4 linked regions of the Homo sapiens genome follow. The protein of the gene in region 1 interacts with the protein of each later gene in a pairwise test. Each region holds a gene or a part of one and is shown in the gene's direction. Other genes may lie near its edges.

Evidence for each region.
Region 2: the proteins of HSF2BP (region 1) and TSEN15 interact in binary tests that used the Homo sapiens proteins (3 or more experiments, as listed by UniProt).
Region 3: the proteins of HSF2BP (region 1) and ARHGAP45 interact in binary tests that used the Homo sapiens proteins (3 or more experiments, as listed by UniProt).
Region 4: the proteins of HSF2BP (region 1) and ARHGEF3 interact in binary tests that used the Homo sapiens proteins (3 or more experiments, as listed by UniProt).

Annotation. Positions count from the first base shown.
Region 1 is NC_000021.9:43,649,131-43,656,958, reverse strand, and holds part of HSF2BP (heat shock factor 2-binding protein), read left to right. Parts: intron 1-221; coding exon 222-372; intron 373-7,828. UniProt on the Homo sapiens protein: Meiotic recombination factor component of recombination bridges involved in meiotic double-strand break repair.
Region 2 is NC_000001.11:184,054,075-184,061,902, forward strand, and holds part of TSEN15 (tRNA-splicing endonuclease subunit Sen15), read left to right. Parts: intron 1-279; coding exon 280-361; intron 362-653; coding exon 654-789; intron 790-4,086; exon of another isoform or gene 4,087-4,166; intron 4,167-7,828. UniProt on the Homo sapiens protein: Non-catalytic subunit of the tRNA-splicing endonuclease complex, a complex responsible for identification and cleavage of the splice sites in pre-tRNA. It cleaves pre-tRNA at the 5' and 3' splice sites to release the intron.
Region 3 is NC_000019.10:1,062,705-1,070,469, forward strand, and holds the start of ARHGAP45 (rho GTPase-activating protein 45 isoform 1 precursor), read left to right. Parts: upstream 1-4,462; 5' UTR 4,463-4,701; coding exon 4,702-4,791; exon of another isoform or gene 4,792-4,868; coding exon of another isoform or gene 4,869-4,970; intron 4,971-5,709; coding exon 5,710-6,040; intron 6,041-7,765. Other genes in the region: phospholipid-transporting ATPase ABCA7, read left to right, coding at 840-974, 1,056-1,159, 1,457-1,549, 2,227-2,467, 2,566-2,721. UniProt on the Homo sapiens protein: Contains a GTPase activator for the Rho-type GTPases (RhoGAP) domain that would be able to negatively regulate the actin cytoskeleton as well as cell spreading.
Region 4 is NC_000003.12:56,798,265-56,806,216, reverse strand, and holds the start of ARHGEF3 (rho guanine nucleotide exchange factor 3), read left to right. Parts: upstream 1-4,267; 5' UTR 4,268-4,418; coding exon 4,419-4,514; intron 4,515-7,952. UniProt on the Homo sapiens protein: Acts as a guanine nucleotide exchange factor (GEF) for RhoA and RhoB GTPases.

The DNA of each region.
Region 1 (7,828 bases):
ATTATTTTTAACATCTGGCTCCCTTTTTGAAGGCTGAAGCTTCAGCTTTCAAAATGTTTGTATGTACATAAAATATATCTATAGCAGAATATACAGTAGGTAGAGACATGATTTGAAACAACGATGCACATAAGAGGTGTGAAAGAAAAGCAAGTTAACTTGAGCTGTTGTTTTTTTTCTCATGTGAAGAGAAATATAATAAGATCTGCTTGTTCTTTTAGCACATGGGAACTAAAGAGGAATTTGTTAAAGTCAGAAAGAAGGATCTGGAACGGCTGACAACTGAAGTGATGCAAATACGGGACTTCTTACCCAGAATACTAAATGGGGAGGTGCTGGAGAGCTTCCAGAAATTAAAGATTGTAGAAAAAAGTGAGTCTTCATTTTCAGCAGTCATTGGTGGTAACAGTAATTTGTTCTAGCAGATTTACCCTAGGTAAATAATTGTAAACGAATTTTAAGGTACTCTTACAGTCCTTGTGATGATATTTGGGAGAGTCTGATGACCTAAGAAAGGGAGGTTTCCTCAGTGTAGTGACTTGGACATATGTAAGTTGGTATAAGTTGGTTGCCAGTTTTCTGAGCATCTATTAACAGCTTCTCTTTCTCTCTCTCTTCATTGGCAGAAGAATTTTATACTTTTGATAACTGAAAAGCTCTATTCTGAAAATTAAGTACTTACTGTGTAAGTTAAGGATCTTGCCAAATGGAAACCTTGCATGGAGTTTACTTGTCAGTAGAGATAGCTGGAAGTGTGTTCACTTATCTTTAGGTGGATGGGTGAGCCAGTATCTAGAACTGATTGAAGTTTAGGCTTTCTGGTGTCCATTCAGACTTTTGAGATTTGAGCTGAGCTGTTATGTTGAATACCAGTTTAGGAGCCTATTGAAGTTCCTGGACATACTCTGAGATTGTCTCAGCACTTGCTTGATTGAGGCCAAATCATGATTAAATCAGCCTTTGACGGTAAAGGCCAATTTACTGCATGACATTTGGTTGTTATCCCTCCCTGTGTGCCCTCTAGAAAAGGTGCATCCAGGGGGCCCAGGTAGCTGTAGCACTTGTCCAGACAAGAAGATAGCTCACCCCGAGAATATGAGTTTCTGGCATGTGCAAACGTATCTGGTCAGTGGGCCAGCCACATCCAGTTAGAAGGGACAGTTCTCATCCACCGTACCTTGTCCTGTTTATATTCTCTCCGAAGTCCTTGGATCCAGTCTTCTCTGCCCTGTGGTGTGCTCTGGGAGGTAGATCCCTACAGATGGGGCTCTCCTGGTTCCCTTGCTGGCTGCCAGTGGGGCTCACCAATGGAAGGCATTGCTGGGTGGAGAGAGAGGTTGGGGTGTTTCTTCCTGCTCCCTCCCTGCTTTGCTGCTGTTTTGTGGCAGTAGCTGCATCCCTCCACAACAGAGACTCCTGTCTAGAGGCCTCTTCCGTAGTCCTAGCTCTTGCTGGACTGCCCCTGCTCCTGTGGCTGTAGGGCTGTTGCTAGTCCCTGGGTACCTCGCTGTCCCTTGGTGGTTCTGTTATCTCTGCTCTCCCCTCTGTAAGTGGTCCCTTCAGAAAAGTCTCAACATCTGGGTTGATTTCTCTTTCCCACTGGGACTCTGCCAGATACATGGCGTGTCATTGGTTGCCAGAATGCCAGGTCATTGACTTCTAATTTCTCTAGTTTTGATTTCATGCTCATCCAGCAACTTTCTGAGATTAGTCATTCCTTGTGCATTTATCTTCAGGAAAGGAAGGTAAATAGGCATACACCAGTAGCAGCGTATGGCAGCCTGCTGGTTGGTTATATTCTCACTGTAAATTAATAAACTGGCATTCTAAAAAATACATCAGGGTCTCATGAGTTAGTTAACATGAGTGTCTTTAGTGATCAGTCCCGCTGCCAAAATCAAACCGAGTGAGGGCCACAAACAAATCTGTGGTCACTTGATCACAGTCTGCCTTTGGGAGATCTTATCTCATAGTCCCGGCCTTTCCCAGGCTATAGAGTCACCTTTTTCCCCATAGTCTCTCTGGCAATTCCTGCTTATTCCCCTTTGCTGAAATTTATCCTTCTCTGCTTTGCAGCCTTCCAATAGGGCTTGAGACTCAGGCCTAGGCCCCGCTCATTGCCTCACCCCATGGCTTCTCCCTAGGCAGTCTCATGCACACTCACAGCTTCAGTTACCGTCTTGATGCCAGTGGCTGCTGGATTTACTCTCTAGCCCAGAACTCTCCAAGCTCACGGCCTTGTGCCTGACTCCGACTTGGCATTTCTTCCTGCTTGTTTCATGATTATTTCAAATTCTAAATGTCTGCCCTAGCCTAATCAGTCTAAGGTCGCCAGGAACAGACCCACAGTCTGACAGAGTGAGGTTTATGGCTCTTTGCAGTGAGGAAGACCATACCAGAACACCGAGAAACTGTGGGGCATGTCAACAAAAAAGAGGATAGAGTTGTTGTAGGACTTGGAGACAGAGTGGTATTAGGTGAAGCATAAATGAAGCAAAATAGAACTGTGTCTAAAGGGACCAATATTAAGTCTGACTGCGAAGCGGACCCAGGTCCCGTTTCCTTGAAAACTACAACGTTCAAATAGACGTGGAACATTGTTCTAGAAATCCCTTACTTGAAGCTCTGCAGTAGCTGGAAATAGGGTTCTTTTCTGTGTCACAGTGACTTAGATCCTGCAGGCAAGAGTGGGATCTTCTTACTTGTATAATTTCAAAGAACAAAATTTGTGCGAGTCTGGGATTTTACAGAATAAGGCTTCTCAGTGAATAAGAAGTTAGCAGTCACTCAAAGAAGAGGTCATTATGACACTTTACAGTTGCATTGTCTTTGAGAGATATTTTCTGTTAACTTGGCACCTGACTTTATCTGTGTTTGTTATTCCAGCCTGACAGAAGTCAGGACAGACTTTTGCTTTCTCGGTGCAAGCTGATTTTTACTTCCTGTTGTCATATCTGCCTCATGCTATCTGTTCCCTGCCCCTGTCTTACACTGGCCTGCCTCAGTCTCCCCAGAGCACCAACACCCAGACTAGAGACCCAGGAGTCTTCCTTGTTACCTGTCTCTCTTCCTCACTACTCCGCATGAAACCTGTCCGCTAGTAAGTCTTGTGAGTGTTACTTCATGGATGCATCCTGAATCATCAGCCTGCGTCTGTCTCCACTGCTGTGTTCTGCCTCCTCCTGGCGGTCTCCTCACTGCCACTCTCCAGTCCCTCAGACACACTGTAGCCTGAGTAGTTTGTGGCAGTTCAATCTGATGATGCCATTCACCTGCGTAAGTCTTCAGACGCTTCTCTTTGTTTTTAGGATAAAGAGCAAAAACCTAAAAACCCCACCCAGACTCATTATCATCCAAAAACCTAAGCAAAACCATACTACGGCTTAAAAGGCTTTATATTATTGGGCACAGCCCCGGCTCAGAGTCACTGCCTAATCTGACTACCTCGACATGATCAATCTTCCTTTGAAATGTTGTCATGGTACCCTATGCTTCCTTCAGACACATGGTTTTATTTCCATTTTACTTTATAAGCTGTTGGGAGTGCAGGGCCCCTGATTTTATCTGTCATTATCTCGGCCCCTGATTTTGTCTGTCATTATCTCCCTGGCTGATTATTCGGTCTTGAGGGAGCACCCTACTGTCTCTGCATGCCCTTCTTTCTTTCTCTCTCTCTCTTCCTTCCTTCTCCCTTCCCTTCCCTCCCCTCCCCTCCCCTTCCCTTCCCCTTCCCTTCCCTTCCCCTTCCCTTCCCTTCCCCTTCCCTTCCTTTCCCTTTTCTCTCTCTCTCTCTCTCTGTGTCTCTCTTTCTCTCTTTCTTCCGAGTCTCACTCTGTTGCCCAGGCTTGAGTGCAGTGGCATGATCTCAGCTCACTGCAACCCTGCAACCTCTGCCCCCTGGGTTCAAGCGATTCTCTTGCCTCAGTCTCCCGAGTAGCTGGGATTACAGGTGTGTGCCACCACGCCAGCTAATTTTTGTATTTTTAGTTAGAGACCAGGTTTCACCACGTTGGCCAGACTAGTCTTGAACTCCTGACCTCAGGTGATCTGCCCGCCTCGGCCTCCCAAAGCACTGGATTACAGTTATGAGCCACTGCGCCTGGCCTGATGCCCTTCTTTCTAGTTTGCAGTCCTATCTCATGAAACTCACATGTGCTCCAGGAAACGTGGTGTTAACAGAAAGGAAGGATCAGATTGGGCTGGGCTGGTTCCAGGAGGTTTACTGTGGCCTCCTAAGGCATCTTTTATCTAATTTTGGCTTTTGAGTTTTTACCATTTAGCCAACATCAAGAAAAATAAAAATTCTTCTTTTTATAAGGCCTAGATCTGATGGCCCTCCCCAAGCCTTCCCACGAGCCTGTCTTCCTAGACTAATCATGCTAGACATGACTCTAAGAATAGAGCTCTACAGAGGAAATTCACGATTGTACTGTGGCAGCAAGAGCCGTTTGACATACTGATTCTTCTACTCTCCCACTAGCCCTATTGTCCAGTATCCACTCCTTTTGCTTCTAGAGGTTAATGTGCACTTCCAGTTGTTTTTTTTTTTTTTTTTTTTGATGGTGTCTGGCTCTGTCTCCCAGGCTGGAGTGCAGTGGTGTGATCTCAGCTCACTGCAACCTCTGCCTCCCGGGTTCAAGCTATTCTCCTGCCTCAGCCTCCAGAGTAGCTGGGAATACAGGCGCCTGCCATCACGCCTGGCTAATTTTTGTATTTTTAGTAGAGGCAGGATTTCACCATATTGGCCACGCTGGTCTCGATCTCCTGACCTCAAGTGATCTGCCCGCCTTGGCCTCCCAAAGTGCTGGAATTACAGGCATGAGTCACCATGTGCTTCCAATCTTAAGCAGTGACTAAAGGCAACCTGAAGGTAGGAATGAATACAGGCAGGGAAGGAGTAGACCTGATTTGAGAAGTTTCTTTTAGAGTGTGGATATAGTTTTGTTTGGATGGGCTTGGGCTATACAGTAACTTGTAAGCCAGCTAGAGGATTGAGGTGACACATCAAGTAGCGAATGGGGCTTGATTTTGACTCTAGCCCAGCATCTCCCTTTGGGAGGACTGGGCAAGGTAAATGGCAGTTTGCAATAATACTGACGAAGGTGTTGCCTGAGAGTCTTAGGGAGTTGATGGGTACTGGGGAGAGGCATGATTTGTTAGGAGGAGAAGGGGAGATATTCTAGGCCAGGGCGGTGGCATGTGAAAGTCACACATGGGATTGAGCAGGACCGATTGCAGGTTCATCAGCTAGTGTTTGATTGCTGTATGGAATAAGGATTGGGGGTATAGCAGAATTAGGGATGGAAAATGAACAGTTTATGGAAGACAATCATAGATTGTTTTTAATTTGAGATGAGAGTCAACTGGAAATTACCACATGGAAATAACCATCAAAATAGTGATCAAAATGACGTTTTTTAGGAGAATGGTTTTTATAGGTGAGTGTAGGATAGGTTTGAAGAATTGGGTGGAAGATGAATTAGAGCATTCATCAAGGAAGGTCGTGAGTTCCATTAGTGTGTGGGACTGTGGCTGTATGGATGGAATGGAAGGGACGTTTGATTAGTCTTGGTGGTTAAGTCAGGACAAAGTGTCATGATTTATGATCGGCAGTGAGAGTATGGAGATACAGGATCATCTATATACTGCCTGCTGATTAGTGTCTACAAAATGTGGACAGTAATGCTTACCTCATAGGCTATGGCAAAGCTTAAAATGAGATAAGCTCTGTAAGGTGTGTGCCACTGTGACTGGCTCATAGGAGTCCCTGGTAAATAACACCTCCTCAGATGGTGTGGGAAACTATGTGAACCCTTGGGGAAATGAAGAGAGACTCCAATTCACAGCCCAGCAGCTTAGCTTCTGGCTCGGCCATTGTCACTTCATGAGTTTGGGAAAAGTTTAGGGAGGTTCGAGTAAGACTCAGCTATGTTTGCAAGAGATGTAAACCGGGCCGGGTGCGGTGGCTCACGCCTGTAATCCCAACACTTTGGGAAGCCAAGGCTGGCAGATCACTTGAGGTCAGGAGTTCGAGACCAGACTGGCCGACAAGGTGAAACCCCATCTCTACTAAAAATACAAAAATTAGCCGGGTGTGATGGCATGTACCTGTAATCCTGGCTACTCAGGAGGCTGAGACAGGAGAATCGCTTGAACCCAGGAAGCAGAGGTTGCAGTGAGCTCAGATCATGCCACTGCACTCCAAACTGGGTGACAAAGTGAGACTCCATCTCAAAAAAAAAAAAAAAAAAAAAAAGCAAGCCTGAAAACACTATAGGAACCTCCATTTGACTTGTTAAGGTAGTGGCACTTAAGTACTTAGTAAGATATCACCCTCTGTTTTCTTTCATCCCTTCTTGTGCTTTATTCATCCAACAGTGGTGAATAAATCAGTGGGTATCAAAAATTTGTTTAAAACTAGGAAAATCCTATTTTTTATAAATAAAATTTTATGGGCCGGGCACGGTGGCTCATGCCTGTAATCCCAGCACTTTGGGAGGCCGAAGTGGGCGGATCACGAGGTCAGGAGATCGAGACCATCCTGGCTAACATGGCGAAACCCTGTATCTACTAAAAATACAAAAATTAGCCGGGCATGGTGGCGGGCGCCTGTAGTCCCAGCTACTCGGGAGGCTGAGGCAGGAGAATGGTGTGAACCCCAGAGGCGGAGCTTGCAGTGAGCCGAGATCGCACCACTGCACTCCAGCCCGGGCGACAGAGCGAGACTCTGTCTCAAAAAAAAAATTATATAATAGTATATGATGGTTCTAGATGTAAAATAGATGAAAACTGTATCTTCTGGGTATTTGTTTTTAAAATTAAGTTTTAGAACATTGACTTATAAAATCAGTAAGTACAATGAAGGTGGTGCGATGAAAACACAAATTTAGTATCAGGGATTTTGGAAGGTACTTGGATGATCACTTTCAGCATCCAGTTTGTTTTTAGTTTTGCTTGTGAAGTCGCAAGAAGACACAATCCCACAGATAAGGAGTTGCAGATGGTGGTTTTGAAGTAGTTCACCTAGCAACATGAAGACACTTTCTAATTAAACTGATATGAAGCTTGAAATAAGAGGAGTCAGATATTTTTGTTTTACAATTAAATCGCTAAGATCGAGCAATTCTTTGCTTTCCTTGATTGGCAATTGTTCATTTTGGAGAGAAATAATAAAAAAGCCATTCAGTCTGTTTAAATCTTCATTGTCTTACAGAAAACACTTTTCATGCATTATGCTGCATTTGACAATTTGGCACCTTAGTGGCAGTCAGATATTCACTGACAGTCTCAGAGGAGCTGGAATTATTTTTGTATGTTGACAGCACACCTAAAATGTTGGCCTCATTTCTGAAATAATTAAAATGTTAAATAATTTTAACCTTTTAAAATTTGTTTATATGTTTTTTGATGTTAATGTGAACCAGCCTTGTTTTGGTCATTGAAAATATCAGCAGTGAATGCGAACTAGTGTAGCCATGATACGCTGGTGAGATATTTGACCAACAGATTTTTCTTTCTTTTTTTTTGAGATGGAGTCTCCCTCTGTCACCCAGGCTGGAGTACAGTGGCATCATCTTGACTCACTGCAACCCCAGCCTTCCTGGTTCATGCCATTCTCCTGCCTCAGTCTCCCGAATAGCTGGGACTACAGGTGCGCGCCATCATGCCCGGCTCATTTTTGTATTTAAAAATTTTTTTTCAAAAAAATAAAAAAAACCCCAAACTGAAAAACAAACAAAAGGCCAGGCGCGGTCAGCACACCTGTAATCCCAACTACTTGGGAGGCTGAGGCAGGAGAGTCGCTTGAGCCCAGGAGGCAGAAGTGACA
Region 2 (7,828 bases), on another chromosome or scaffold:
AGCTCTTCTGACCTGCTGTGTCATGTTTTTTATTCCATTTACATGGTTTTTAATCACTTACAGTCATATATTGTTATTTGCCTAACAATTTTAAGTGTGCATGTATTTAACAATTGCAAGTTCTTTAGAGACAGAGATAAGATCTTATATTGCCTTTTAACTTCCACTATACCTAGAAGAATTTTATAGATTATATATGCTTGATGACCACTTGATGATTGGAAGAAAATATTAAATAATTTTTTCTTCTCAATTTGACAATTATATTTTAATTTTCAGTATCTAGAAATGATGGAATTAGATATAGGAGATGCCACCCAAGTTTATGTAGCGTTCTTGGTTTACCTGGACCTCATGGAAAGTAAGTTGTTTGTTTATATTGTTTTGTTATTGGGACTGTGGTAGAGATTTGGGGGGTTGGATTGGGATATAGCATTCTTAACATAATAAGCAATCTTTTATGCATTTGCTGTTAATTTTGCAATTTATTTATTTACATTGGGAATTACTGAGTAACAGAAGCTACTAGAAAAGCAAAGACAGGAGGTAGTGTTACGAGTGATATTTGCTCAGCTGAGTATTAGGTAGAAGTTTGGAGTTTTTATTTTTTGTATTTAATAAACATTATTGTCCATTCAATGATGCTCTTTCAGGCAAAAGCTGGCATGAAGTAAACTGTGTAGGATTACCAGAACTCCAGCTCATCTGCCTTGTTGGTACTGAGATAGAAGGGGAGGGGTTACAGACTGTGGTGCCTACCCCCATCACTGCTTCCCTCAGCCATAACAGGTGAGCAGGTGATTTTGGTCTAAGTTCCTTTCCCGAGTAAAGCAGTAGGAAACATTAAACATAGTGATGTAATACTTTTAATGAAATTTGGGATACAGGGTTCATAGCTTTACTCTTGGCTATTTGAGGAATAAGTTAAATATGAGTGTTGTATTCGGCCATTCTTGCATTGCTATAAAGAAATACCTGAGACTGAGTAATTTCTTAAAAAAAAAAGAAGAGGTTTAAGTGGCTCATAGTTCTGAAGGCTTTACAGTAAGCATGGTGCTGGCATCTACTCGGCTTCTAGGGAGGCCTCAGGAAGCTTATAATCATGGAGGAAGTTCGTGAAGCAAGAGCAGGCACATCATATGGCAAAAGCAGGAGTGAGAGAGAGTGTTGAGGGGGAGGTTCCACACACTTTTAAATGACCAGATCTCACGAGAACTCATTGTCCTGAAGACAGCACTCAGCCATGAAGGATTTACCCCTATAACCCAAACATCTCCCACCAGGCCCCACCTCCAACATTGGGGATTACAGTTCAACATGGGATTTGGGCAGGAACAAATATACAAAGTATATCAAGCATTCAACAAGTATTTATTTAGCACTTACTCTATGGTCAGTACTTTTTCAGAGACAGTATGTATGGTAGAAATATTTATATTCTTGGTAAGGAAGCAAGACCATTACATATGAAATAACAGCTGTTATAAGATGTACCATGTAATACAAATTATACTTTATATAGCAGTTGGTGAAAAGCATGATTAACATGCAAGCTGAAATCAAATTTTCATGTAGCTTTTTTTAAAAGCTTTAAAAAAGAGACTTTTTTTAGGACCTTTTTTTAAAAAGCTTAGGTACACAGCATTGGATTAAACATGTCTTTGTTTCATGACATACTCTCATTATTAGTTCATGCTTGGTTTTTATTTATTTACTTAGTTATTTTTAATAATGTAATAAGTATCTCTGTACCCATCACCCAAAGCAAAACTAGATTCTTGATAATAACTAACATCTAATCTTATAAGTCCCTTCCTTAACGTGCTTTCACTGACCTGAGGTAACTCATTCTGAATTCCATGTACATTGGGAATTTTTAAATTTTAGATGTTTTTAACTTTAATTAAAAAATCTTATCTTTTAAGGCTGACCTTATACACTTAATATTATATTACTAAAATTCATCCATTCTTGTGCATTTTTTGAGCTGCCACATAACATTCCATTGTGTGATTATACCACCATTTTTACATCCACTCCCTCGATGATGGAGTGTTGCTAATGTTTAACTTTAGGAGATAATTTCAAACTATTTTCAAAGTGGTTGCCTCAATTTACTTTTCACCTGCAGTGTAAATAAGATCCTTTGGAGCTGTATTGTCTCTCACATTTAGTATTGTCAGACTTTTAAATTTTTGCCAATGGAATGGATTATTCTTATTTTGGTCTTAATTTACATTTCCCTTATTACTCATAATACTGAATATTTCTTTATATATGTATTATTTATAAGAAATATCTGTTCATATCTTTTGCCTGTTGGGTTGTTTTTAGTTTTCTCATTGACTTGTATGAATTCTTTATATATTCTTGACCTAATAGTTTTTTTATTGTGTTTTCCAGTTTTTAAGTCTGTCTTTCACTGTCTTAAGATGTCTTTCAATGAGTAACAGTTCTTAATTTGAATATAATCATATTTATCCATCTTTTATAATCAACGTCTTTGTGTCTAGTTTAAGAAATATTTTCTATCTAACGGTCTAAAAAATACTTATATTTTCACTAAGAGTTCTATTGTTCTTGTTTTTAATGGTGTGAGAGGCGGTTAGGGATACCATTGTCATGTGGATAACCACTTTTTCTACCTCCATTTACTGAATAGTCCCTCCTTTCCTCACTATCTGACATATCACTTCTGCTACTTTCCAAAGTTCCAAACATGCATTAATTTGTTTCTGGGTTCTCTATTATATTCCATTAGCCAGTTTATCTGTCCTTTTGCCAATACCATATCTCTTAATCGCTTGCTTGGTAAGAAGTCTTGGTATCTGGTTAGCAAGCCTCCCTTATGCATTTCTTCTTTAGAAGCTGTAGCAGGCAGCTTCTAAGATGGCTTCTCCTAATTCTGGTATTCACTCCCTTATGTAACTCTCTTCCCTTGAGTGTGACCTGGACTCAGTGACTTCTTTCTAATGAATAAAATTTGGCAAAAATGATAGGAATGTAACTTCTAAGATTAGGTTACAAAAGACTGTGGCTTCTATCTTGGGCACTCTCTCTTGCTTACTATAAAGGAAGCCAGCTGCCACGTGAGCTGTCCTACAGAAAGTCTGAAAATAGAAAAGAGATGACAATTATTGATGGAGCAAGATTCTTGAGAGATGAGGAAGGATGGATTCAAGAGGATAGTGGAGGAGAGTAATATTGAGCATGTAAAGGGGTGCTGTAAACCTCTGAGAGTGGGGTATGGGAAGAATGAACAAATGAAAACACAGCTCTATTTGGGTGGCATATAAGTAGGGAAAAGAGCAGAGCCTCTTAAATTCCAGCATGAATACCGTTGATGAATACTTAACATTTTTTCTAGCTGACTATGACTGAATACATAGCAGTCTAGTAGAAAGAGCCCCAGACTATAAAGTCTTAAGACCTGGGTTCTAGTCTTGGGACTGACACTTAACATTTTGTTTGATGTTTAGCAACACACCTAATTTCTCTGGGTTTCAGTTTCCTCGTCTTATTTTGTTGTTGAGGGATTTAGATTACCAGTACATGCAAGATCCCTTCTAAATTAAAGCTGCTGTAACTGGTTATTTTCATTGTGCATATTTCATAAAGCCATATTAAACTAAATTTGCAGATTTCTATGAAGTATTTTTTGTATTTATTATTCATAATGAGAATTGTTTTTTAATATGTCAGTCTATTCATATGCTTCTTTGAGAAGCTCCTTACTGTTTTCTCTGTGTTTGAGAATTACAAATAGTTGTTAGCATTGACATCAGATTTAATCGCTAGTACTTTCCGGTTTTTACTAGCATGATTTCCAAGCCATCCTATATCCAAGAGTCTTAATTCATTCCTCAGAACTCATTACTTCTGTCTTTTAATTACTGTAACAAATATTGTCCTAGCTAGTATTAATGTTATATTATTTGTTTGGACAAGGAGCTACTATTTGAAATTAACCTGCATTTATTCCTAAAAAATAAAATTAATGAAAGCAATAGCCTATTTTAATCAAAATCATTTCATAAGTCTAGAAGTACAAATTTGTTTCCATTGTTAATTTCTAGTATTTTCCAGGTGGTAATTAATGCTTTTCTAGCTTGAATGGCTAAAGCTTGTTTTCTTCTTCAAGTAGAATTAGTTGGAATGATAACTTGGTAAGCCATTTTGATGCTGTTGCATTTAATAACTGAGAGAGCTTAAATCTTTATGTCTTGTTTTTATATAAATATTCTTAACTATATTATACAGTAGAATACTAATATAGAATGTAGCACAAATGAGGCCTGATACATACTAGATTTATATGCCTTTTAGTGCATAACATTTTCTCAACTCAAACTATGCAAATAACTTTTTAACAAATGGAAATGTGTGGGTGTATATGTGTGTATGTGTGATTTCATTATTCAGTCTTTAACAGGGCAGTCTTTTAGGTAGTAGGCATACTTTTATCTATTTTTACTTTTAGTGTATTTTATAATATAAAATGTTATATATCTAACAGTAATGCTGCAATTCCAGCCTTTCATAGTTAATGTGGGAATTTTTCTGTGTTAGTAACACAGAGAAGAAAATGATTGATGTTGAGTCTCTGATAACCTTGTATAGCAAAGAAATTCATTGGGACATGTCCTAAAAGTATTTGGTGGGAAGATGTGAGGGCAACTCACCATGAAAGAAAAAATACTTTTTATTTAAGAGGGAAAACAGCTTTTACTTATTCAGTGATAAAACATCTACATAAATTAACGATTCTGTTTTCACTTTTAAATATTATTATTTGTCAGATAATATTGCTTGGGCTTTTTGGTCTTAACAATTATTTATTGAGTGACTCTTATGTGTCAGGCAATGATCTAGGTGCTGGGGATACCATGATAACAAATACTTTCATGACATCCTCATGAAAGTAGTATTCTAGCACTGAATATTCGCTTAGAAAATACTTTTTTTTTTTTTTTTGGTAATTGTTGGATGGAATTTTAAAAAACAGAATTGCCCTTTGTTCAGATATTTAATTGAATGTGTGATTTGGGACTGCCTTCACTTATTTTGTAGCTAGATAATTGAATAACAAGTATTATGGAGTACTGATAAGTAGTTTAACAGGGATATGTACAAAATTATGTCAAAACCCAGAGGAAGGACAGGAAAAGTCTCTTTAGCCAGTAAGAGACCATGGTTTAGTAGGGTAACTGCAAGTAATTAAGCATGATTGCCTACCTAGCATGGTGTCTAGTCAGAGTAGGTGTCTAGTAATATTCCTTAAGGCAGCAAATGAATGAATGAATGAATGAATAAAATTTCAGAGAAAAGAGGGAAAGGATGGAAAATTAGATGGGAAAGTTTATTTAGATTATGAAGGCCATCATTGTTTTTACTTTTTTGCTATTACTAATGGTATTCTAATGAATAGCCTTGTGAGTACCTCCTTGTACTCATGTATGAGAGTTTTCCTAAGAATAGCTGGGACATGTATACCTTTATACCTTCTTTTTTTTTGAGATGGATTCTGGCTCTGTCACTCAGGCTGGAGTGCAGTGGCACAATCTCGGCACACTGCAGTCTCCGCCTCCCGGGTTCAAGTGATTCTCCTGCTTCAGCGTTCTAAGTAGCTGGGATTACAGGCATGCACTACCATGCCCAACTAATTTTTTGTGTTTTAGTAGAGACAGGTTTTTGCCTTATTGGCTAGGCTGGTCTCGAACTCCTGACCTCAAGTTATCTGCCCGCCTTGGCCTCCCAAAATTCTGGCATTACAGGTGTGAGCCACTAGGCCTGGCCTATCCCTTCATCTCTACTGGTTATTGCTAAATTGTTTTCAAAAGGATTATTACCAGTTTACACTTGCACTTGCAATGTGTAAGTTTTCACAGACTGGGAGAAGATTTATAACATGTGCATAACTGACAGGTTAATTTAGAATTAGCTTCTGTGATTTCAGAAAAAAAATCCCAATGGGAAACATGGGCAAAGAATATGAACAGGCAACTCACAGAAGAGGAACTCAAATGCTCAAATATGTTTGTAAATGAAGGAATTACAAATATAAAATGTGTTTGTGTTGTCTTAACTTTGAAGAAGACTTGCAGACAGTTTGTTTTTATTTTTTGACAGAAATAAGGTACTGTTTAATGGGGAACTTTTGAACAGAACTACAGCTAGCACTTAGAGAGTCTCTGAACAGTTTAGGAAAAGGAGCTCCCTCTCGACATGCAAAGGAAAATGTCTCTTCACTAAGGTTCAAGGCTTGGCGAACAATGAAGGCCAGATTTTAGATCCACTTGTGCCAGGCACCGTTGTGCAAAGCACAATCTGCATATCTGTACATGATGCCCTGCCCCTGAAGCATGTCTGTGGAGTCTTAGGTTTCCACAAAGAACACTATGAAAATTACTGCTAAATGGGTGGTGTCATTGAAGGGCTTTAAGCAAGGAAGTGAGACTATTGTTTATTCTATGTGGTTTTAAGAATACTTTGCATTTGCAGAGAATGTTACAGAATTTCAAAGTATTTCAAAATATTTTTACAAGTAGACTTTCATTAAATCAGCACCAAAATCCCTAGTGGTATACGGGGTGTTTGTTTTATCCTAACTTTACATACAAAAAGCTGAGGTTAAAAGTATATTTTCATTTGTACCCCCACTTTTTCCAAAAGATAATAAAAGATTAAGTGAGCTGTACCACGGTCTCAGTTAGCCTCACAGCTATTAGAGTTTCTCTTGCTTTATTGGTTTTTAAAAAGATTTTATTGTAAATGAAACTAGATACGGAAAACCACACAATACCAATGTATAAATTAATGAGTTATAAGGCAAACGTCTAGAACTCTTGTAATTATAACTAAGTCAAGAAATAGAACTTTTCTAGGCACCCCACAAACTTTTCAATGTGCCCCATCCCAATCATAATCTTTCTTCCCCCCCAAAATAGCCATTATTCTTTCTTTTATAGTAATAATGGGCTTTGGCCCATATATTGTTCCCAGGACCTCTTAGTGCTAATTTGTCTTTTGACTCTCACTCAAGAAAGAATGTTGGAATATCACTGGTGAGACTGATAATATTATCAGGAATATTAGTTTTATATTTAAAAATACCCTGCCAACTTTACTACTCTATTGTTAGAAACAAATTACTTGCCACATACTATACAACCAACCTCAGCATACCAGTTGTAAATCACCATTTTAGACTGTGCGTCTTAGCTGCTTGAATATAGTGCTTTAAAAAATGCTTTGTAGTCCTCAAAAAACCTTAAATAACATTTTTATTAGTAGGAGAGTTGGGTAGCATACACAGCTGTAGAGCCAGAGGAGTTGGCAGTTTGCTGGAGCTACAATTTCTTATTATTTACAAAGAGCATATAGCACATAAGGCCTGATAACTGTCTCTTTTATTGAAGGAGACAAATTTTATAATCTGTTGTTTGTAAAACTGAACCAAACTCTGTCATTTACATAGTTAACTACAACTTAGTTATAAAGTATTTCCCTAGTGATGACAAATAGTCCCACTGTTTCAGTCACCACTTGACTGTTATGTGGCAGAGTGGCATGTATATTTATATGGTTTATTATTTATTTTATGGTGTATATGTATTTTCTGCCTCCTTAAAAAGTAATTGTTCTAAGGAGTGTTTAATGTTATATCTGTGTGCTATTCTAAGAATGCCTGAACAGTTTTTAGTGTCTGCTTCCCACTTACTTTCCCAGGCTTTAGACCTGGTGGTTTTGTTTACATACTTTCTGGCAAGAGTGTCGACAGATTCCATTACAGGGTGAATGTGTATTTGAATGACTGTGAGTGAATGCA
Region 3 (7,765 bases), on another chromosome or scaffold:
TTTCACTGCCTCTTCCATCTGCTTGGGGGTCTTGTCTTTGCCCTGGCCCGCCCCACCCTCACACTGTCCCACCCCATGCCCTTTCTGGCCCTGCCTCATACCCATGTTGGCTCCACCCACACCATGGCCCTGCTCCATACCCATCCCAGCTCCACCCATACCAAGGCCCCACCCCATACTCATGCTGGCTCCACCCACACCATGGCCCCGCCCCATACTCATGCTGGCTCCACCCACACCATGGCCCCGCCCCATACTCATGCTGGCTCCACCCACACCATGGCCCCGCCCCATACTCATGCTGGCTCCACCCACACCATGGCCCCACCCCATACTCATGCTGTCTCCACCCACACCATGGCCCTGCCCCATACTCATGCTGGCTCTACCCACACCATGGCCCCGCCGCATACTCATGCTGGCTCCACCAGTGTGGCCCCGCCCCATACTCATGCTGGCTCCACCCACACCATGGCCCCGCCCCATACTCATGCTGGCTCCACCAGTGTGGCCCCGCCCCATACTCATGCTGTCTCCACCCACACCATGGCCCCGCCCCATACTCATGCTGGCTCCACCCACACTATGGCCCTGCCCCACACCCATCCCAGCTCCACCCACACCATGGCCCCGCCCCATACTCATGCTGGCTCCACCCACACCATGGCCCCGCCCCATACTCATGCTGCCCCCACCACACTATGTCCCATTCTCACATTTGCCCTGCCCCATGCCCATTATGCCCCTGCTCCACACTCAATGCTGGCCCCGCCACACTGTGGCCCTGCCCCATACTCATCAATATGAGTCCCCATGCCTACTCTGGCCCCACCCCACAGACCGCTGGCTCGGGCCTGGCGCGTCTGGGACTCTCATGGTACGCAGACCGGCCTGCAGGCACCTACAGCGGAGGGAACAAACGCAAGCTGGCGACGGCCCTGGCGCTGGTTGGGGACCCAGCCGTGGTGTTTCTGGTGCGTGGGAGCGGTGCCTGGGTGGGGTGGGGCCTGCGACGGAGGCGGGGCCTTGCTTATGGGATCTTCCGTGCTCCCCAGGACGAGCCGACCACAGGCATGGACCCCAGCGCGCGGCGCTTCCTTTGGAACAGCCTTTTGGCCGTGGTGCGGGAGGGCCGTTCAGTGATGCTCACCTCCCATAGGTGGGCCGGGCTCTGATGCCCTGGGCTGTGGTTAAGGTGATCCAGGCCTGGAGAGAGAGCCCCAAAGCACAAGGCCACAGGGGATGGGGGGTCCTGGCCCTAGTGGGGCGAGGGCGCCAGGCCCCGGGGTGTAAGGACACACAGAGGTGGGACGCGGCGCCGGGATCAGAACGGTCTGGGGAAGAGTGGGGAGATGTCCACACCAGAAGGGTGGCCCAGGCCGGGGGAAGCAGGCAGTGTGGCGCCAGGCACAGGTGGCCCCGGCCTCACGGAGCTCGTGGTGCCGGGTCCCGACAGCATGGAGGAGTGTGAAGCGCTCTGCTCGCGCCTGGCCATCATGGTGAATGGGCGGTTCCGCTGCCTGGGCAGCCCGCAACATCTCAAGGGCAGGTGAGCCGGCGCGGCCTCCAGGCAGGTGTGGGGTGAGGGTGGGCACGTAGGTAGGCTCAGGGGAGAGGCCAGACGTAGAGCCGGGTGAGGAAAGTTTGGCTCCAACTGGAGAGATGGCCAAGGCTTTAGATTGTCCTGCAGGGGTGACTGAGGGGGCGAGACAGGCTGGGGTGTGCTGGGGGCGCAGGACCAGGAGGCGTGAGCCGGGGGCTCTGGGTGGATTTAGAAGACACAATCAGGTGTGCGTTGGAGTAGGTGCAGCCTGGAGAGGTGAGGGTGGATTGATGGGTGGAGTTAGGGGAGGGCCTGGTTAGTGGGCGGGGCCATAGGAAAGTGGGGCGGGGGTATTTATTGTGTGGGCGGGGGTAGAGTGCAAGGGCGAAAGAGGAGTGTCCGAAAAAGGAGTCAAGTGGGGTGATAGCTTCGAGAGCAACCTGGGCAACCTAGGGAGACCCCATCTCTATAAAAAATTTAAAAATTAGCTGGACATGGTGGTGTGTGCCTGTGGTCTCAGCTACGCGGGCGGGGGGTGGCGGGGGACTGAGACGGGAGGACCACTTGATCGCTAGGGTAGTACAAGTATGGGGCGGGGCCAGAGAGTATTAGGGGCTGGAGGGTGAGCTGAGGTGGGACCTGGGAAAGGCCCGATCCGGTAGCCCTGGCCCCACTCACTGCAGATTCGCGGCGGGTCACACACTGACCCTGCGGGTGCCCGCCGCAAGGTCCCAGCCGGCAGCGGCCTTCGTGGCGGCCGAGTTCCCTGGGGCGGAGCTGCGCGAGGCACATGGAGGCCGCCTGCGCTTCCAGCTGCCGCCGGGAGGGCGCTGCGCCCTGGCGCGCGTCTTTGGAGAGCTGGCGGTGCACGGCGCAGAGCACGGCGTGGAGGACTTTTCCGTGAGCCAGACGATGCTGGAGGAGGTGATCACGGCGCCGGGGTCGGGCTGGGGGAGGCAGGCTGGGGGCCAGGCCCGTGGGCTGACCGTCCCTCTTGTCCCCTCTGGGCTGCCCACCGCTAGGTATTCTTGTACTTCTCCAAGGACCAGGGGAAGGACGAGGACACCGAAGAGCAGAAGGAGGCAGGAGTGGGAGTGGACCCCGCGCCAGGCCTGCAGCACCCCAAACGCGTCAGCCAGTTCCTCGATGACCCTAGCACTGCCGAGACTGTGCTCTGAGCCTCCCTCCCCTGCGGGGCCGCGGGGAGGCCCTGGGAATGGCAAGGGCAAGGTAGAGTGCCTAGGAGCCCTGGACTCAGGCTGGCAGAGGGGCTGGTGCCCTGGAGAAAATAAAGAGAAGGCTGGAGAGAAGCCGTGGTGGTGAAACCGTGTGCATGTGTGTCCTTGAGCCAGGCTGCACACATGTCCACACAGCTGCCTGCACATGCGTCTGGATATGGCTGGCCCCTTGCAAGCTGAGTGTGCACATACGGGCCAAGTGGCGATTCATAGGACACAGGTGTGAGCGTGCCTACAGCTGACCGGATCCCAGCTGTAAATGCCTCTGTGGCCAGCCCAGGAGTTGGGGATGTGAGTGCGGGCCTCATAAGGGCCTGGTCACACCGTCCCTGTCCCCACGTCCCTGCGTGCCTATGTGGGGCTGGCGCCTAAGGGCGGTACCTGTAAGTGCCTGGCCATAAAGTGGGGATGAGGTCAGGACTCAGGAATGTCCTGGGAAGCTTACAGGAGCCCGGTGTCCCGGAGCACAGGCCAGGGCCGGGCCAGAAGCCCATCCGACATCCAGCTGACCCTCACCCTCTGACCCCAGCCCTCAGCGCCATGAGTCGGGGGCAAAGAGTTCTCAAGGGTCTGCTGGGCTGGGTTTGCACTTGGACCTGGGCCTGGAGAGCCAGACTTGGAGCAAGGGGCTGTGGCCTTCATGTCCTGTGCCCCAGAGATCTGCCCCTCCCACCCGAGGTAGGTGGGAATGGGGTTTGGGAAAGGAAAGAGGTTGGGGTTTTGGGATTGGGGGTGGGGTTCTGGAAGGGGACAGCAGGGAGACTTGGGGAGGGGGGAGAGAGTTCACACTGCGGGGTGGGGGTTGGGGGAAGGTAGGAGGCTGGGATCTGTATGCCTGCAGATGCCCCAGCTCTTGGCCAATGCCGCCTCAGGCTGTTATCAGCAACGGGTGCCTGCGTCCTGCTGCCCAGCACGTCCGGTGGTCCAGAGTCACTGGAATGCAGCTTGGGAGGCGGGGCTGGGGACCTTAGCTAAGGGCAGGTCTGGGGCAACATGATATGGCCCACAGGGCTGCTGAGAGGTAACCAGGTGTCCTCAGCATATTCTGCCGATGGTGGGGTCCACACCACACTTTGGGGACCCCTGTGCAGGCAGCCCAGGACCAGGTGGACGTGGGGACCCAGACGGACGTGGGGACCCAGACGGACAGGGCCCGGTAACCTGGATTGTTCTGACTTCCTGGACGTCTTTGCCCCCAGGGTTTCGGTTCTGGGCCTCAGTTTCCCCACCTGTCCTCGACCTGACCCACTTCACGGGGCTGCAGGGCGGGTGATGGGGGGGACCCTACTCTGCCCGGCCCTGCTGGGGCCCGGCCACACCCTAGGGTCTGCAGGAGAGGCGGTGGAGCGGGCTTGCCTTCAGGGAAAAGGGGGCTGCAGGGGCGCAGCTTCGGCCTGTGCGTGTGTCTGGGGTCTGAGGGCGAGGCTCCAGGGGCTTGGTGGCGTCTGAGCGCGTGTGGAGGTCCGGGTCTCTGCGTGTCATCGTGCACGTGTCTGTGCACGCCCACTCGCGTCCGGGAGTGAGAGTCAGCGCCCTGCAGTCGGCCGCCCCGTGCCCGCCAGCGTCAGGCAGGGGCTCCCGGTCCCACCCCGCGAGCGGCGCGGCTCCGAGCTCCCGAAGGCGGAAGCGGGGGGCGCGGCCCGGGGCTGGGGGCGGGGCCTGCGACCTCACCTTCGCGCCCACTCCGCAGAGCCGCAGGCTGAGGCCGGGAAGGGTCGGGGGCGAGGCCGCGTCGCCGCCTCCCCGAAGCCTTTTCCTGTTGGGGGGAGGGCCCGCCAGTGACGGCCGGGCCTGTCACGTGGGCCTGACAGCTGGGGAGGGGGTGGCCGGCGACAATGTGGTCCCGAAGCGGCCAGCGCCGGGAGCTGCAGCGCTGAGACCCCCAGCCCGCCCCCTCGGGCTCCCGGCCGGGGCCCCATCATGTTCTCCAGGAAGAAACGAGAGCTCATGAAAACCCCTTCCATCTCGAAAAAGAACCGCGCGGGAAGCCCCAGCCCGCAGCCCTCGGGGGTGAGTGGAGCCCGGGTGAGACCCGGAGCTGACGCCGGGCCGCAGGGGGACAGGGACCCGCCCTGTGCTCGGGGCTCATGCTGGGGCGGCGGCTGGGGGCTCGTGCCAGCTACAGCCCCTACCGGGCGGGACGGCAGGGGCCACAGCAGAGAGGCCGGGACCCCGGCATTCAGCTCACGGTAGGGACCCTGGGAGTGGTGGCCGCCTCCCTCCACTCCATCCAGGGCTGGCCGCGGGGCCCAGGGAGCAGGAAGGGAGGGTGCCGGGTTGGGACGATGTTGTGTTTGGGCCGCTGCAGGTTGGGGGCTTAGGCAATCTGGGGGCTCTAGGGGCCGTTGAGATGGGAGGGCTGTGGCCTGGCCATTGGGCTGAAGGTTGACCGGGCAGCAGATCCTCTAATGGGATCCACCAGGTTCAGAGGTTGGGGAGTGTCCCCAGGCCTGGGGTGTCTACAAAGCTGGGGGGGGGGTCTACAGAGCTTGGGGGTCCGGGATGTCTACAAGGCCTGGGGCTGCCCATAGGCTCTGGGGTTCCATGGACCTTTAGGGGACAGACAGAGTCAGAAGTGTGTTCACTTAAAGCACCTGCGTTGTAGGAGCCTGAGGGGGGCTTGAAGGGCTGAGGACCCTCCCCACCCCCACCAGGAAGTGGGGACCCCCCTCCCGCGCCTCCCCGCAGGCCCCGCCCCGGCTGTGGTTTGGGCAAGGACCGTTGTTTGTGAAAGCTCTAGGGAAGAGGATGTTGGGTAACAGGTGGGGGGGTACACTACCAAATCTCGGCCCTGTGACCTCTGGCCTTTGACCCCTGTGGGGTCAGGGTGATGGTGGCCCTCCACAGCCCCACTTCATTTCTGGGGAAACTGAGGCCGTGTCCAGGCCGGAAAATCCCTTTAACGAGCTCCCCTCGGACCTGCCCAAGGAGCTGCCCAGGAAGGATGGGGCTGACGCGGTGTTCCCCGGACCAAGCCTGGAGCCGCCCGCTGGGTCCTCCGGCGTCAAGGCCACAGGGACCCTCAAGCGGCCCACCAGCCTGAGCCGCCACGCCAGCGCGGCTGGCTTCCCCCTGTCGGGTGCTGCCTCCTGGACACTGGGCCGGAGCCACCGGAGCCCACTGACAGCCGCCAGCCCGGGCGAGCTGCCCACCGAGGGTGCCGGCCCGGACGTCGTCGAGGACATCTCCCATCTGCTGGCGGACGTGGCCCGCTTCGCTGAGGGCCTTGAGAAACTTAAGGAGTGTGTGTTGCGTGACGGTGAGAGCCACGGGGACACCGAGGCCTGGGTGGAAGACAGAGCCAGACCCAAGGGAGGATGGAGGGAGGGACTTGGGGAGGCTCAGAAGGGAGGGAGGCTCAGATGGCAGGGAGGGCTGTGTGGAAGAGGCCATGACAGCTAAGGCTCTGAGGGATGTGTAGGAGTTTGGTGGGGGAGTCCCTGAGCGTACACTGGCTCAAGAGGGTGCCCACTTTATTTTTTTTAAAGGATCTGATGGCAATTAGGAGGGAAAGGCAGAGGAAATGTCCCATGCACAGGCTCAGAAACACGGAAACAGAGAATGCATTTGGGGGCCAAGGTGTGGGGTGCCGCTGGTGTAGGATGAAGGCATGACAACGCCAGGCAGAAGGGCAATGGGGAGCCATAGAAGGTGTTAGAGCACAGGACAGATGGGGGCAGATCTGTGTCTTGGAATGAAGCAAACTGGGGGTTGGCTGAGGTCTGGGTGGAGAGAGATTCAGGAGGCATGGCGAGGGGCAGGATGGGGTCATCAGGCGGCGGAGGTGCTGGGACCCAGCGGCCTGCAGGCCGGCAGTTCCGTTTTCTCCTCCACGCGGCCGCTGACAGCCCTGCTTCCTGCCGAGTTATTTTCATCTGCTTCCTGTTTGTCCCTGGCAGCCCAGGCGGGCACCTCATGTGCTGCCTTCAGCCCCCGGCTCCTCCCAGAAACCACAGTGCCAGGGTCATGCCAGGCGCTCTGATCTGCTCCCAGCAGCCGCCCATTTTACAGATGACGAAACTAAGTCTCTAGTGAGGCCCTGACCCCTGGCTCACCCAGCCAGGGCAGGGCAGAGCCAGGACTGGACCTCAAGTGGTGGAGTGGCCTCTGCACCTTCAGGGCACTAGTTGGGGAAGGCCCGGTCCCCACTGGGAGGAGTGGGAGCCCCCGGGTTATCTGGTCCCAGGGGCGGGGGCTAGGCTGCTTTCCTGGGGAAACCCTAATCTCGGTTCCTTTCCGATCCTGGCGCTTCCTTGGAGGCCTGGCCTGGGCGGGGCTCAGCTCCCAGGCTCCTGCAGGAGGTCTGAACTGGGCCAGCCAGGGTGGGGCACTTTTTTTTTTTTTTTTTTGATACAGGGTCTTGCTCTGTTGCCCAGGCTGGAGTCCAGTGGTGTGATTGAGGCTCACTGTTACCTTGAACTCCTGGGCTCAAGCCATCCTCCTACCTCTGCCTCCCGAGTACCTGAGACTACAGGCATGAGCCACTGCACCTGATTTATTTTATTTTATTTATTTTATTTGAGATGGTGAGATGGAGTCTCACTCTGTCGCCCAGGCTGGAGTGCAGTGGCGCGATCTCGGCTCATTGCAACCTTCCTCTCTCGGGTTCAAGTGATTCTTCTGCCTCAGGCTCCCGAGTAGCTAGGACTACAGGTGCGTGCCACCACACCTGGCTAATTTTTGTATTTTTAGTAGAGATGGGGTTTCACCATATTGGCCAGGTTGGTCTCAAACCCCTAACCTCGTGATCCGCATGCCTCAGCCTCCCAAAGTGCTGGGATTACAGCAGGCATGAGCCACCGTGCCCGGGCTTTTCTTTTTTTCTTTCTTTTTCTTTTCTTTTCTTTTTTTTTTTTTTTTTTTGAGACAGAGTCTCACTCTGTCACCCAGGCTGGAGTGCAGGGGCGAGATCTCAGCTCACTGCAACCTCCACCTCCTGGGTTCAAGTGGTTCTTCTGCCTCAGCCTCCCGAGTGGCTGGGATT
Region 4 (7,952 bases), on another chromosome or scaffold:
AGTGTCTCAGGCAGATTGCCTAAAACCCCAATCTGTCAATGGTGGAGCAGTGCATTACATATGGGGAAGGTGCTGAAGTCAGGGACCAAGGTGGAAATTGCATGAGGTCAGAAATACTCCTGAAATAGCTAATCCTGACCTTAACCTATATACTGATGGAAGTTAAAAAAAAATACTCCTGAAAAATTTGTTAAATGCCTCAAGGACCATATACATGGCTTGTATGCACCCCAAATTGCTGGCTTGAGTTTATAGGCTTTGTTGTACCAAAAATATCTGTATTTAAACACCAGAATCCTATTCTGGATGGTGAGACATTCGTGCTATAAGAAGCTTGGAAGAATCAGACCACCCAAGAGAATTCCAGATTCCCATCTTTCCTTTTGTAGCTTATGCTTTTTTATAGCACTATTTAAATTGTTACAGGCCATTAGTAATCTCTCTGCCTCTGTCTGTCTCTCTTTGCCTAGCATGTATAGTGGAAAAGAGGTATGTTTGTCATATATATGTTGTGTAGCCCTGTGTATTTATTGATTTTTATGGCTCCAGTATATTTTAAGGAAAGCAAAGAAATGTTTTAAGAGAAGATGGATACGGCAGCCTTCTCATCAATCAATATGACTGTTCATTGCTCTGCAATAGTTGTGCTTCAACCTAAGTTGCACTTTAACATTTCTTCGGAGGCCAGGCACAGTGGCTTATGCTTGTAATCCTAGCGCTTTGGGAGGCCGAGGTGGGTGGATCACTTGAGCTCAGGAATTCAAGACCAGCCTGAGCAACATGGTGAAACCTCATCTCTACAAAAAATATAAAAATTAGCTGGGCGTGGTGACGTGTGCCTGTAGTCCCAGCTACTTGAGGGGCTGAGGCGGGAGGATTGCTTGAGACCAGGAGGTTGAGGCTGCAGTGAGCCAAGATTGTGCCACTGCACTCCAGCCTGGGCAACAAAGTGAGACCTGTCTCAAAAAAATAAAATAAACATATTTCTTAGGGTTTGTTTACTGTTACACTGGATTTATGGTATGTCAGACTCCCTGCTTGGCCCTAAGGATACTGCAATGAGCAACCCAGTCCCAGGGCTATCAGACGTCGCCAGGGTGACTATTTTCTTCACCAAGTGCTGTAAGTATATTTTCCAACTTGAGAACACGGCCCAGCAAGCTCTTCTGGGAGTCAAAGCCAGTGGCTTTGATGGCAAATGTGTTCTAGTTGAGATAGTGGACTGTGAGGGCCAGAAGAGCAGGCAGAGAAAGAGGAATAAGAAGTGGCTCGGGTACTTGGGCACAGGTTCTTGGTGGCCAGACAAGCCCTGAGTGACGCATGTCACTGCCTCTGGCCCTGCCTTTGGCTGCATAGTTAATCAGGGGCTACTTGGAGATGAGGTTACTCTCACACCCCCACCAAGCTTGGCTAAGCTTTTGGAGCACTTGTGTGAGCTCCCCATCAGCACAGCTCAGGCTAAAAGGATAAAATTGTGTTCAGGAATACAAATAGGAAAAATCAGTGGTTCTGAGGTGCTCTTTCCTGCCCCATACCTCTTCTGAGACAGTTTTCTTCCTATTGCTTCAGGTTATCTATCGAGGGAAAAAAACTCAGGTGCTCTCTTCAATTTCAGTTGGAACCTCCACCCATTCAGGAGCTTCATTTACATGTGTGGTAATAACAGGCTGGTTACACAGGGCCCAATTCTTTCTGCCTCCAAAGGCAGTTTGTCTGCACTAGCTGGGTAGGAAAGTAAGTGGATTTAGTGTGAGGGTGTGGATTTGATACCTGGGATGAAGAGCTATGTATTATGAGGTGTCCTGCCTGAGAAGTAGGAACTGCTGGGTTCTGACCTCAGCTAGAAGCAAAGAGCACGCAAACAGGGACTGGATATCACCATTCCCACTATCCCCTGCATCCCCAGGAAGTAAAAACAAAAGATAGTGTCTCCATAGATCACCACCTGATGTAGTCATGACTTTCCACATGAGGAGGAAAAAGATTCAACAGTACAGTCTACAAAATAACTTTTGAGAGATGATCATTTTAGGGCTGGGCATGGTGGCTTACACCTGTAATCCCAGCACTTTGGGTGGTTGAGGCAGGTGGATTGCTTGAGCTCAGGGGTTGGAGACCAGCCTGGGCAAACATGGCAAAACCCTGTCTCTACAAAAATACAAAAATTAGCTGGGCACACTGGTCCAGGCCTGTAGTCCCAGCTACTTGGGAGGCTGAGGTGGAAAGATCACTTGAGCCCAGGAGGAGAAGGTTGCAGTGAGCCAAGATCATGCCACTACACTCCAGCCTGGGCAACAAAGCAAGACCCTATCTCAAAAAAAAAAAAAAGAAAGAAAATATGATAATTATAATATTTTAAAAAACTATAATTTCCCAAGAAGTGCCATGAATGAAGGTATTTTTCTTTTTTTCTCTTGAGACAGGGTCTCACTCTGTCACCAGGCTAGAGTGCAGTGGTGCAACCATAGCTCACCACAGCCTTGAACTCTTGGGCTCAGGAATCCTCCCACCTCAACCTCGGGATTAGCTGAGACTACAGGCATGCACTACCATACCTGGCTAATTTTTAAATTTTTTTGTAGAGGCAGGGTCTTGCTATGTTGCTTAGGCTGGTCTTGAACTGTTGGCCTCAAGCCACACTGCTGCCTTGGCCTTCCAAAGTGTTGGGATTACAGGTGTGAGCCACTCTACCTAGCCATCTTTTCTTTTTTCTTTTCTTTTCTTTTCTTTTTCCTTTCTTCCTTCCTCTATTTCTTTCTTTTTTTCTTTTCTTTTTTATTTTTTCTCAGGGTCTCTGTCACCCAGGCTGGAGTGCAGTGGTATGATCTTGGCTCACTGCAACTTCTGCCTCCCAGGCTCAAGTGATCCTCCCACCTCAGCCTCTGGAGTAGTTGGGATTACAGGTGTGCACCACCATCCCTGGCTAATTTTTTGTATTTTTTTTGTAGACACAGGGTTTCACTGCTGCCCAGGCTGTATTTTTCTTATAAAAAATTTTAAAACATGAGCTATAAGCTTAAGTCCCTTTTGTTCACTATCTTTAATTCTTTAAACCCAGGTGCCTCCCTTCAGCCACAGGGGAACTGGTAAAAGCTTGCTGTGGATTCTTGTAGACAGTGTTCAATGCTATTTACCCACAAATATGTCTTTATAGAAAATATATGATATTCTTTGGTAAACTTGTATTTTTTTTTAACACAAATGGTATTGTATTATGCTTAGTCTGCAATTATTTTTAAACTGAGTCTAATACATTGGAGATCTTTCCATGCCACACCCATAGACCCATCTCCTTTTTCACTGCTGCTAAGCGGTATTACACAGTGAAGAAAGTTTATTTAAGCACTCCCTATTGATGGATATATTACCATTGTTTCCAGTTATTTTTTATTTTTTACTGCCCCAGACAGGGCTGCTGCAAACAACCTTAAGATCAATCGCCTTCTTGGGCATTTATAATGTCATTGTTTCTCCAAAAAGGATCCAGAAAGGTGTGGTAGTGCCAGGTCATCCATGCACAGCTTTATACTTGAAGGACACTCTGTCAGATTGCCCTCGAGTGTCAGGCAGCCTCTGAATATGCTAGTCAAATTTAAAAGTTGGTGCAAAGTGGGAAAGGTCTCGAGGGAATTTTCCGGGGGTGGTGGAAATGTTTCGTATACCGACTGTGGAGGTGGTTATACGGGTGTTTACATTTGTCAGAACTCAACAAACGGTACTCTTAAAATGGGTGCATTTTGCCATTTGTAGATTATATTCCACTGACATTCATTTAAAAAACCAAACAAAAACAAAACAAAACAAAAAAAACGTGCAGTGGCCTGGGAACAGGGTAAGAGAGAACACCACCCCTTTCTAATGTGGGCTTTTAAAACGCTCGCTTTTCCCCCCAGGCTCCTTCCTGCCTCCAGGTGTCACTACAGCCTCCTTTCTCCCCGTTGCCCGGTTTCGCCCCAGCCTCCTTTCTACCAGCAGCCTTTCACCCGGAGAGTGCCAAAGAGCCCGAAAGGAGCTATCATGGGGTCTGCCTGCCCCGCAATCGCGGCCCACGCTCTGCGGGGGCGCCCGGAGTCGAATACCAGCGGGGAGAGAGAGGTCCCTCTCCACCCGCGGGACCGCCCCACGCCCCTCGCAGCCCCAGGAGGTGTCCGCGCTGCGGCACGTGGGCCCTCCCGGCAGCGTGGGGCGGTGCCGAGCCGGCGGCCCGCCCCCTCCCCACCCATCAAGGCGTGGCTGGCACGGTCCCGCCCACTCGGCTCCGGAGCCCAGTCGAGTCCTGCCCGGCTAGAAGCCGGCTGTCGGTCTCCGTGTCGCCGCCGCCGCCCGGCATCGTGGAGCTGGGGCCCCCTTTTGCCTGGGAGTTTTGTAGTCGCCTAGGGTCAGCGGTGACATCCCAAAGGGCAGGCCCGGCAGCCGCCATGGTGGCCAAGGATTACCCCTTCTACCTCACGGTCAAGAGAGCGAACTGCAGCCTGGAGCTACCCCCGGCCAGCGGTCCGGCCAAGGACGCTGAGGTAGGGCCGCGCCCTGCACCTGGACCTCTATGGGTCATCTGCCTGTCTCGTCTGCCTCCATCTCCCATTCTCGGCGCCCGTCCAGTGTCACTGTCTCTGTTTCCATCTCTCACTCTCCGTGTGTGCCACTTTCTCTCTCTACATCTCTCCCACAGTCTTCTTTGTGTCTCCCCGTCGCCATCTCTCACCCTGTCTCCTTTTCTCTCGCTTTTTCTCTGTGGACCAAGCACTAGCTGCCTCCTCTCTCCCTGTCCCTCTACCTGCCGGTCTGGGAGCAACTGCCTCCTTGCCTTTGCAGGGCTCTCAGACTGTCCATCTTCTGTCTGGACTCTCAGAGGGACTTTCTCCTACTGTCAGCAAGCCCCAGTGTCAGGGAAGTGTCAGCAAGCCCCAGTGTCGCTACCCTTTAAGCGAGTTTTTTTTGCCTGGGTTGTGAGAGCAGAGGGACGTACCAGCCCTCTCACCTGTCAGACTTGGCCTTGCAGCCCTTTGGCAGCAAAAACAGGACACAGCGCCTCTGCCTATCACCTGTGGCCAGTGAGGGTCATTCAGCCGGGGGGCTGGGGCTAAATGAGTAAATTGGAGTGTCTCCCACATGGATCTTGAAAATGAATTAAAGTCCTTAGGGTCAATGGAAAGCTGCCTTGGAACATTGGAAACATTTCTCTTTCTGGGAACTTTCCTGTGCCTTGCGGGCGATGTGAAGGAGTGCTCCCAGGTTATGTTTAGTCTGCCTTTTCCTCTTGCGTGTTATTTCTCTGGCACATAGCTCACTGGCCTTAAAGGTTGGGTTCAGCTGGAGGAGAAAGCATCCCTCTCTTTGAGGGTCTTAGGGAATACAGTCGCTTTCGCTAGATTACAGCTTTGCTGTGGTCAAGCTGCGGTGGAACCCACAGGACCCAGCTAGTCATTGCCGCTCATGCGTGTATCTGGGAGCTTTCCACTCTCCCACACCTCACTCTGCGAACATCAAACATCACCACCACCACTGGGGAAAGGCTGAAGGCAGGTGTGCATCCGGCCTTGTCACAGCATTCTTGAGGTTCCACCCACTCGCCTTCCTTGGGTCTGCTCAGCTGTATGCACTTGGCTCACTGAATCATGTATATTCGGGAGCACACCATCAAAGATTCATTTCCTCTAGCAAGAGCTGCTCCAGGCTGACAGGACTCCAAGCAGTCTCTGGTTGTATTCAGCTTTCTATACGCTGAGCACAAACTAACTTCTCCCTCACTCAAACCCAACCCTACACTCCAGCTCAGTCGAATATTATCACAAAGAGTTTTTGTTGCCAGCAGCTGTGAAAGTGTGATGGCCCTAGTGGCATTTGCATAGAATTCAGGTTGGTCAGGCCTGGAATGGATATAATATTTTTTCAGTGGGAACTTCCTAATTTAATCAACATAGGAGCAGCGCAATTGGTGCCCACTCAAACTCCACTTGTAAGGAAGAAAGGCATAACCAATAAATTAATAAATTGAAGTGGGCCAAAGAAAAGAATAGTGAGGATAGCTGAGGACTCTAACCAGTCCCTTCCTACTATTACTTAGTCCTGTGTTTTTGAGTAGTTTAGCTAAAGGCTTAGGTAAAACTTGCCTGCTTAATTTCATTTTATTCTTATACATAGAATATAGATATGTCTATATATCACAAATATGAAACTTATCACATGTCAAATATTAATTTTCTTCATTGGTAGCTGGATCTAGACTATAAAATATGACTTATTTTCCTCGTATGGGGATATCCTGATGTGAGAAATAAGGAAGGGGTTGGAATAGTTTTGGAAATAGTTGGTAAATATTTTTCAGATATCACTATTGGGGTTTTTGTTTTTTAGTGTTTGATTTAAACACTAAATCAAGTATGCTTTATACACTTTGAGGCAGAGATATCTTTTAGCTTCATCGATGAGCATATCACTTCCTGATAATGGAAATTGGCAAAATTGGAAAAAGAAACCTAAGTGAGTTTAGTGGGTAGTTTTCTGGTTTCCTTATCAGCGCAAAAGGCAGCCAACCCTTGTAGGCCTAGCTTCTCCATAAGCAGTTAACTAAAATATATTTTCCACCAGTAGGTGTCGTCAGTATTCATAAATTAAAAAATAGCATTCGCTTGTCAGCCTTTTGAAAAACATGATTATATAATTGTTTATAAGCTAGGCATTGACTGTTAATTCCTCTGAAAGTATTTTTTTAAGAGTGATTGTTTTCTTTGTGGAAAGAATGTGGTTATAATAAAAAGAAAAATAGATCTATCCAGAGGCCTTTCTAGGAAAACAGGACTTGTTGACCTTCAAAGGCCGTTGCAACAGAGCACCTGTGCCCTTTAAACATTTAATGGCCGTGTGTAATGGCTGTTCCTTCCGAATTTGCCTTGGGTAGGACAGTGCACACAGCATGGCACTGGGAAGTGCCTTCTAGCATTGACTCCTATCCTTGCAGCAAGTGTACTGGGGAAAATCACTTAGGAAAAGGCTCCTGGGGAACAGGCAAGTGGCATTGATGTGCATTTGATACCGTACACTGAGTAAAAAAATATGCAAAAATAAGCATTCTCTTAAAAGCAAATAAAATTTCTACTCAAGATTTAAGTGATTTGTAATTTTTTATTTGTGGTAGTTTCCAGTGAAAGCAAAAAATGATATTTTTAAAATGTATTTTTATTTTCTTTAAAAGATCTATTTTAAGCTTTTGAAAATATTCTACAGGGATTATAATATTGCATGTCTGTTAGTATAATACTGCCTCTTAATCTGCTATTTCTTATGACATGGGGGTTTGAATTGGTTGGCAAATGTTTAATTTTAATATCCATAATCAGTGAGGTCCTGCTGGCTGTAATCATTAATTGTGAAATCTAAGGAGCTTAGTTCATGGCTCTAGAATTTCACAGAAAAATGTGATATGATACGAGCATTAAGTTTATTTCTTCTGATCTTTGATGCAGCTTTGTTCAGTTTATCTGTTTTTGTATTTATTGGTCATCTACTTCCCATGCCAAAAGGGACTGGTCTACATAGCTGCGCTAAACACCTGATCAAATCACTAAAAGAAAATGTGTTACCTCTAATGAATTATCCTGATTGTAAGTTAAAAATCAATATTTCCCCGTAGTGAGGTTTGCTTTTTAAAAAGAAGGCTTAAAAAAAAAAAAAAAAAAAAACGAAGTAAAGAAAAGGAAGCAAGCTCAGGTAAGGTGCACACATTGGCTAAGGAAGCTAGAGCCTTGTGAGAAGCTTTTAAGAGTTTTAGGTCCAGTTCATTTTTAATCAAAATACAAAGAGGTGTTTCTGTTATTTTTGTAAGAATATATCTGACAACTTGGTGGACAACTTACTTTCAGTTTTAAAATTTACCATCTTAGATATTGGTCAGATTAGGCCTGATTTAGTTAATGGTATTTGTAGCCATTGCTTTTGACTCTCAGCAGTTTTAA